Linked DNA regions of Homo sapiens: regions 1 and 3 are each linked to region 2. Evidence: fine-mapped expression QTL. A gene starts in region 2. Each other region holds a variant in brackets. All regions are shown on one strand. Distances are between the middles of the regions. Region 1 overlaps FLVCR2 (FLVCR choline and putative heme transporter 2). Region 2 holds the start of FLVCR2 (FLVCR choline and putative heme transporter 2). Region 3 overlaps FLVCR2 (FLVCR choline and putative heme transporter 2).

Region 1 (2,672 bases), 32 kb after region 2:
AAGAGAGATTACACTATAAGCCAGTCACACCGGAGCGGCTAATGGTGCAAATGTCAGCCCAAGTAGGAGGGCGGGTGACTTCAAAGCAGGATATTAGGAGATGTTTTTAGCTAAGCAGGTCCCTGAGTAACTCCCTAAATAACAGGGCCAGATCTAATGGTGCTGCAATCTCTCTCTTTCTCTCTCTCAGGGCGTTATAGATGTGAGTGACTAATAGTTTTTTTGGTGTAAGCTTGAGATTTCTTTTTCTTTCCAGCTGTCTGTCTGGGATCCTGAGGCAAGCTTAGTTAACTTATGAAGTTGGCTTCTTAGGAAAAAGCTACATGGGTCCCATCCTATCTATTTCTTGAAGTGCATGCTCCAGAGGAACTGGGTTTTGCCCATGGCAGTCCATGAAGCAGCAACTCTTCCAGGGCCTGCCAGTAAGTAATTGGCAGGGTTTTACCCCTGAAAAAATCAGAATAGGAGGGCTATTACCAGAAAGTCCATCCAGATTTAGAAGGAAACATGGGAGGATTAGAAACATTGGTCGTCACGTGAGCATCCCTTTTAGGAATGCCAGAATGTTGCCTTGCAGACAAAGGAGACAATTATTCTCCTTTGGGCTGTTTTATCTGTCAAAGGTCAGGGAGTGGCACCTTTGAGTTGGGGGGGATAGATGGGGGGTTAGTGTTAAGGGAATGCAGAAGACCGGAGAATCCCTCTGTTGGCTGTTGATTGCTGGTGTCTGGGACAGAATTGGTGGGCAATCAGTGCCAAAGCATTTGAATGGCGCTTTGCACATCGCCTACTTCAAATGTGAAAACTTTGGAGTAAGATTTGCATGATGTGATCTGATGTGATCTCAGCTGGCCGGGTGGTTTGAAAGACACCCACTCATTTTTCCTCCTTCCTAGCCGAGTCATGGGGAAGTTCTGTGACCACTGGCTTTCAGCACAGTCAGCTAGAGGGACATTAATGTATTGAGGTGACAGTGATTTGTTCTCTCACTGAAAGAAAAGGCAGTGGATTCTTCACTTCTGCACCCAAAGTAGACCTAGGCTGGCCCTTTGTGGAGTTCACCATGAGGACAACTTCAAGGGGAACACCAAGTCCTTAAAAGGAGGAGTGTGTGCCAGGAAGCTCCTGAGTTCATGATGACAGAAAGCAAGCATAAATACCGGGCTTAGCTAAAAAAATAAAACACGGCCTTTGTCAGTGTTC[C/CT]TTTTTTTTTCTTTAATCAGAAAACTTTCCTTGTGAAACTCATTTTCTTCACCTAAACTTAGCAACTTCTCTGTTTACAGCCTAGTGTATCTCTGCTCTTCAGCTAACTTGCACCCCCCACAAAGATGAGGAGGAAACCCAACACCAAGGCTGTAGGTCAAGATCAAGGTATATTACATTATAAACCGGGTGAGAGTGAGCTCCTTGTCTTGCATCTTTCTCTTCCCTTCTGAGTAGGGTGCCTAGTATGCAGCAGGTGCTCAATAAATACTGAGTGTAGGTCTAAGAGTGAGAAGTTGATTGGTCTGCATTCGAATCCCCTCCATGCCTGATCTTGGGGCACCCCAAATGAGAGGTCTTCCCTGTCTGGGGGCTTCCTTAGGTCATTTCATCTGGCATCTACTCGCTTTGGGTGGTTAAACTCTTACAATGCAGCAAACTGCTACTGTGCCCAACTTGTTTACTGCAGAGCAGCCTGGAAAGACTTGAGTGAGGTTTGAGCTGCACAGTTCTAAGAGTTATTTCTTCACTCAGAAAATATTTCCTGAGTGCTGTCTCTGTTCTTGTGATTGTGTCAGACGTGGTATGCGGGAGGGTCACATGAGCAAATGTGAGTCAATGTCCCTGTCCTCAAGGTACTAACAGTTTAGTTTGGGAGACAACACACTACACAAAAAGAAACAAAACTAAGCATGACATAAAAACAAGAAACCTGTAAAGTGTAACTGTGGCAAAGAAACCAAACTGTAGCTGGAGACACCTCTCACCCTTGCTTCCTCCGACAGCTACACATTTGGGGACATTTGAACTACAGAATGGAGCATATGAGACTGGAGGGAGTGTCGGGTGTGAGGGCAGTCACTTTTCTGTGGCATTCACCTTGTCCGTTGAGGGCTTTGGAATCAGATAGCCAAGGGTATGAATCTCAGTTTTGCCAGGAGAAGCTGTTTTGACCTTGGGCAAATTATAGAGGCTTTCTCATCTGTAAAAACCAAACCAGAGGCCAAGGCACAGTGGCTCATGCCTGTAATCCCAGCGCTTTGGGAGGCCGAGGCAGGTGAATTGCTTGAGCCCAGGAGTTCGAGACCAACCTGGGCAACATGGTGAAACCCCGTCTCTCCTAAAAATACAAAAAATTAGCCAGGTGTGTTGGGCGCATGTCTGTGGTCGCAGCTACTTGGGAGGCCGAGGTGAGAGGATTGCTTGAGCCAGGGAAGTAGAAGCTTCAGTGAGCCGAGATCGCACCACTGCACTAGCCTGGGCAACAGAGTGAGACCCTGTCTCACAAACAAACAAACAAACAAACAAAAAAACCCACAAACAAAACCCAAACCAGAGATGATGGTGCCAACTTCAGGGGGTAGTTGTGAGGGCATAGATGAAATATCATGTGAAAAAGCCTTTAGCATGCTGTCTAACACATAGCAGACACTCAGTACATATTCACCTCCTTCCTCCTGGTTTGAGTA
Region 2 (2,672 bases):
GTGATGCATAAATGAGCTAATGCATTCAATTTGTTTAGCACTGTACAACAAATGTTAGCTTTTTGCTAGGATAGCCAGCATTCGCGGAATGCTTACTATGTGGCAGGAATTTTCTAAGTGCATTCGTGTATTAATTCATTCAAGTCTCAGAACAACACGGTGAGGTAGGTACTATTATTTCATCATTTCCATTTTACAGATGAAGAAACTGAAGCGCAGAGAGGTGGAGTTCCTTGGTCTACAGTGGCACCTCATTGTAGCTAAGCTGGTGTTTGAACTCAGGGAGAATTTGGGCTCCTTACCAGGATCCCTCGCCAAGGACAGAGGTCAGTGCAACGAGTCGAGGGTTTGCCCTTTGAAATGGGCTAGGACCGGCAGGTGGCAGACTAGGGCTGCTTGAGTTCAAAGACCGCTTCCAAGACCAAGCCCGGAGCCAGCTCTGTGCTAAGCGTTCCATCACACAACCGCGGACAGCTTCTTCGGCTTCTTCAAACTCTCCTTTCCCTCCCCCGCACCCTAGGGTCTTCGCCCAGAATCCATCAGGAAAAATAGCCCCACATAACAGGTTCAAATCTAACCTCCCCAAGACAAAACCACGTCCGCAGGGAAAGAAGCGAGTAAAGCGAGTTTTCTGTAACTCCCCTTTAACCCAGGAGCGCAACCAGCCCGGGAAATCTACAAATCTCTCTTTAGTTCAGCAAAGGGCTGGGAGCCTAAGCCAAGGGGGAGAAAGTTGGGGAATCCCTCTTGAATTCCCCAGAACACTTAGGTGGCGCCGGGCTTTGGTGCACGCGCGCAGGGCATGCGGACAGGCACCGGAGAGGCTCTATTTTGGGCATTACTTCGGGAAGGCGGATCTTCTTGCAGGGTCCGCTGATAGCGGGTGGCAAATGAATATGAGGGGCAGTGCAAAGGGTGGGGGTTAACCGGGCGGTTTCCATGGCGCCCGGGGCGTGGGGGAGGAATGCATCCCGCAAGCTGTGGCGAAACAACTGCTCTGCCCGGAGGACCGGGCTCGAGAAGGCAAGAGACACTGGGTCGGGGGTGGAGTGGTGGCGGGGGGGTTGGGGGCGGAAGAAGCCAGGCAGGACGGGGGCGGGGCGGTCACGTGTGCCCGACTGGGCGAGGCCCCAAGCTGGCCCGGGAGAGGACTCTGCGGGCGAAGTGGCTGCGCAAGGAGAGAACTTTTCCTGCACAAGGAACGCCTCGTGGGGAGACCCAAGGCAGGAGCGGTCCGGAGCCGGCTGCGGCGTGTGCGGCCGGCCTTGGGACAGCGATCGCCGCGGGTGGCAACAGAGAGCCCCAAGCAAAAGTGGGAGCAGGAGCTTGGAGGTGAGCACAGGAAGCCCCACTTGAGGCTTTTACGCAGCCTCTAGTCTCTGTTTCTTCTGGAATAGGCAAGTGTCCTTTCAACTCTAAGAGACCAGCAGAGGCCACTGTCCCTTAAGACTGCCGGAGTCCTCACCACTTCTCCAGGATTCCAGAGGAGACTGTGGCGATGGTGAATGAAGGTCCCAACCAGGAAGAGAGCGATGACACCCCTGTGCCGGAGTCCGCACTCCAAGCGGACCCCAGCGTCTCGGTCCATCCCAGCGTCTCGGTCCATCCCAGCGTCTCCATCAACCCCAGCGTCTCTGTCCACCCCAGCAGTTCGGCCCACCCCAGTGCCTTAGCCCAACCCAGTGGCTTGGCTCACCCCAGTAGCTCGGGCCCTGAGGACCTCAGCGTGATCAAGGTGAGCAGGCGCCGTTGGGCCGTGGTCCTGGTGTTTAGCTGCTACTCCATGTGCAACTCCTTTCAGTGGATCCAGTACGGCTCCATCAATAACATCTTCATGCACTTCTACGGTGTCAGTGCCTTTGCCATTGACTGGCTGTCCATGTGCTACATGCTGACTTACATCCCTCTGCTCCTGCCAGTGGCTTGGCTGCTGGAGAAGTTCGGCCTGCGCACCATTGCTCTCACTGGCTCGGCTCTCAACTGCCTGGGGGCCTGGGTGAAGCTGGGCAGCCTGAAGCCGCATCTCTTTCCGGTCACCGTGGTGGGCCAGCTCATCTGCTCTGTGGCCCAGGTTTTCATCCTGGGCATGCCCTCCCGCATCGCTTCCGTCTGGTTCGGGGCTAATGAGGTTTCAACAGCCTGCTCCGTGGCTGTCTTTGGCAATCAGGTAGGTAGAACAGTTTGTGAATGTTCCCAGGGGCGTGTGTTAGATTGCACCTAACTATTGGGTGTGGTAGGCTATAATTTGCTGATTGTCCAACAGTGTTTGTGACTCTGGGTGACAGTAACTGGGTGTGACAGGCAGTGATTGTGATGCTGTAAGAGAGGCGGGAAACAAAAGCAGGGGGACCTGCTCTTTCATCCACAGTTGCTCTTGCCCCAGCCAAAAGCATGCTTCTAGAACATACTATACCTTCGCTGTGTCGTTCTCGAACCTGTGTCAGTCCACCAACTTAGACCTGTAATTTCAGGAATGCTCTTCTGTCTGGCAGCAGCCCCTGGGCATCAGACTATTCTGGTGTCATCAGAACTTGGCAGTGCTTTCAGTTGGACCAACCAGCTTTCCTAGAGTGCAGTATCTCCTCTACTGCATAGAATTGCAAAGCCATGCCTGGTGGTGTTTGGCACTGCTTTTACCTTGTTTTACACACAGCTGAAGCCAGGACAGTGGG
Region 3 (2,672 bases), 37 kb after region 2:
ACAGTAATCCAATGTGTGAAAGTCTAGATTGAACCTCAATGTATCTTTTATGAGGCTCTTATTTTAAAAGGATCCTCAACCATGCTTTTTAAAGTATCAAACTTTCTCTGAGAACCTTGTCTAGACTTAAATTTCCAACCACATCTTTCCACAGTTCTGGGCTCACATGACAAATGTGCAGTGGCAATGGTGCTTTCCTGACATGCCAGTTAACTGCAGCTCATTCTTTCAACAACCATGTATTGAGTAAGCGCCAGACTAGCAAGTATCAGGAAAATGACTGACAACCCAAAGATTAGAGGAAGTTAGAGCAAGGCAATCACGCCTAGTGAGGATCGTCAAGGAAAGCTCTGTGAGAGAATTCACATGGTGATGGGCTCTGAAAGATTAAAAAGGGGATAACTTGGGATAAAGGTATAGACGAGATGATGGGAAGGTTGGAATCATGACTTGTTCAATCTGGCTGGAATATAGGGGATTTATAGGGATACAGAAGAGAAGGGTCTGGAAAGGAAGGTTGAAACTAGCAAAGACAGCTGTATTAGTCTGTTTTCACGCTGTGATAAAGAACTGCTTGAAACTGGGTAATTTATAAAGAAAAGAGGTTTAATTGACTCACTGCTCCAAATGGCTAGGGAGGCCTCAGGAAACTTACAATCATGGTGGAAGGGGAAACAGGCACATCTTACATGGTGGTAGGCAAGAGAGCGAGAGAGAGAGCGTCTGAAGGAGGAACTGTCAAACATTTTTCTAACCATCAGGTCTTGTGAGAACTCACTACCATGAGAATACCATGGGAGAAACTGCCCCCATGATCCAGTCACCTCCCACCAGGCCCCTTCCTTGGCACATGGGGATTACAATTCGAGATGAGATTTTGGTGGGGACACAGAGCCAAACCAAATCAATGGCTAAGAACAGTAGCTGAGGGGTTTGGACCTGCTTCCTTCCTCTGAGAGGGCTGACACCTTGAAGTTCTTTAAGCAGGGACGGTGGGGTCAATGCAACGCCAAGGACCATGAATGTGAGTACATCATGCAGGTCGGGCAGAGGAGAGATCACAGTTGCCTGGGAGAAAGGCAGAAAGGTCCGAAGTGGGACAGGGCAGATTCAAAGAGGACTTTGCAGAAGGGTTTGGGAGGATCTGAGACGAAGTGCATATAAGAGGGCAGAGTCAAAGATGACTAAGAT[A/T]ATTGAGGAAGGACACGCAGATGGAGCCAGAGAAGGAAGTGAAGCAGAACCAGGGTAGGATGATGGTTTGTATGACTTCCCCAAATAAACCAAGTGCATCTTGGGAGTCCCAGTGGCCTCTGCTGCCTGTCACCTCTGCTGTGTGAGAGTGTGTGGGAAAGGGCCAACCCTGCAGACAGGGAGTGAGCCTCAGCCCGATGAGCTAGGTGGTATTTTCTTCCTCTTGTGGATTAGGAAACACACAGAGAGGTCAATTAACTTGCCAAGCTCTAGTAACTGGTAGGGCCGAGATTTGAATTGAGATCTTTCTGACCCCTGACCCTGAGCCCTTAAGCACTATATTAGTATGATGATGTCTCTGAGGAATGTTGAAGCAGAAAGGAGAAGTGGGAGATTCATTTAAAAAAGCATAAGGCCGGCTGGGCGTCATGGCTCATGCCTATAATCCCAGCATTTTGGGAGGCCGAGGCGGGCGGATCACAAGGTCAGGAGATTGAGACCATCCTGGCTAACACATGAAACCCTGTCTCTACTAAAAATACAAAAAAAAAAAAAAATTAGCCAGATGTGGTGGCGGGAACCTGTAATCCCAGCTACTCGGGAAGCTGAGGCAGGAGAATGGCATGAACCCGGGAGATGGAGCTTGCAGTGAGCCGAGATCGTGCCACTGCACTCCAGCCTGGGTGACAGAGTGAGACTCCATCTCAAAAAAAAAAAAAAAAAAAAAATAGCGTAAGTCCAGTTATGGTGGCTCATACCTGTAATCTCAATATTTTGGGAAGCTGAGATGGGAAGACCACTTGAGACCAGCCTAGGCAACATAGTGAGAGACCCCAATTCCACAAAAAATTAAAAAATCAGCCAGGCATGGTGTCATGATCCTGTAGTTCCAGCTACTTGGGAGGCTGAGGCAGGAGAATTGCTTGAACCCAGGAGGCGGAGGTTGCAGTGAGCCAAGATTGCGCCACTGCACTCCAGCCTGGCGACAGAGTGAGACTCTGTCTCAAAAAAAAAAAATTTTTTTTAATTTAAAAAATAAAAATAGCATAGCATGGGCATGAGGCAAGCCCCAGATTAGGTCATAAAGGGACCAAATTTGATGGAAGCCTTCAGCCTCAGGGACTCTGGTGCAAAGAAAGCAGCTGGCTCAATAAAGGGATACATACATATATATATTTTTTAATTGATACATGGCATTTTACATGTTTATGGAGTATGGACTTTTTTGACTCAGCACTAGGAAGATAGCTCCTGAGAGCTCTGAAATCTAAGGGAACATGTCCAGCCATACCCAGTGATTATGCCCAGGGGAGAGGAATGAGCCAATTGGTTTGAGCAAATTGGGGCCCAGCCCTAGGGGTGAGGGTGGGCTTGCCTTTGTCTGAATAGCACAGCACGTTGGGAGAGGAATGAGTTTCAGTAGGTGAGAACCTGTTTGTGGAGGTTGTTGTCTCCTAACAGGAGCAGGATCCACCTTGCCA

Evidence for each region. PIP is the estimated chance that this variant, and not a neighbour inherited with it, causes the effect.
Region 1: its variant is fine-mapped to the expression of FLVCR2 in whole blood (INTERVAL, PIP 0.98).
Region 3: its variant is fine-mapped to the expression of FLVCR2 in blood mononuclear cells (TOPMed, PIP above 0.99). The same link has a PIP of 0.9 or more in T cells, monocytes and whole blood.

The regions. Positions count from the first base shown.
Region 1 is chr14:75,609,249-75,611,920 of GRCh38, forward strand. All of the region lies in intron 1 of FLVCR2 (FLVCR choline and putative heme transporter 2), which reads left to right. It also overlaps the pseudogene RNA5SP387. Among named protein-coding and RNA genes, the nearest start is that of FLVCR2-AS1, 31 kb to the left of the region's middle. The variant C/CT (reference allele first, on the strand shown) is at 1,204.
Region 2 is chr14:75,577,475-75,580,146 of GRCh38, forward strand. FLVCR2 (FLVCR choline and putative heme transporter 2) reads left to right here and starts at 1,146. Exons shown (of 10, transcript NM_017791.3): 1 at 1,146-2,167. The coding sequence starts at 1,499. FLVCR2-AS1 (FLVCR2 antisense RNA 1) reads right to left here and starts at 2,114. Exons shown (of 3, transcript NR_110552.1): 1 at 303-2,114. RefSeq lists an enhancer at 252-311 and a silencer at 1,022-1,091.
Region 3 is chr14:75,614,130-75,616,801 of GRCh38, forward strand. The region is part of intron 1 of FLVCR2 (FLVCR choline and putative heme transporter 2); the gene reads left to right. Among named protein-coding and RNA genes, the nearest start is that of FLVCR2-AS1, 36 kb to the left of the region's middle. The variant A/T (reference allele first, on the strand shown) is at 1,192.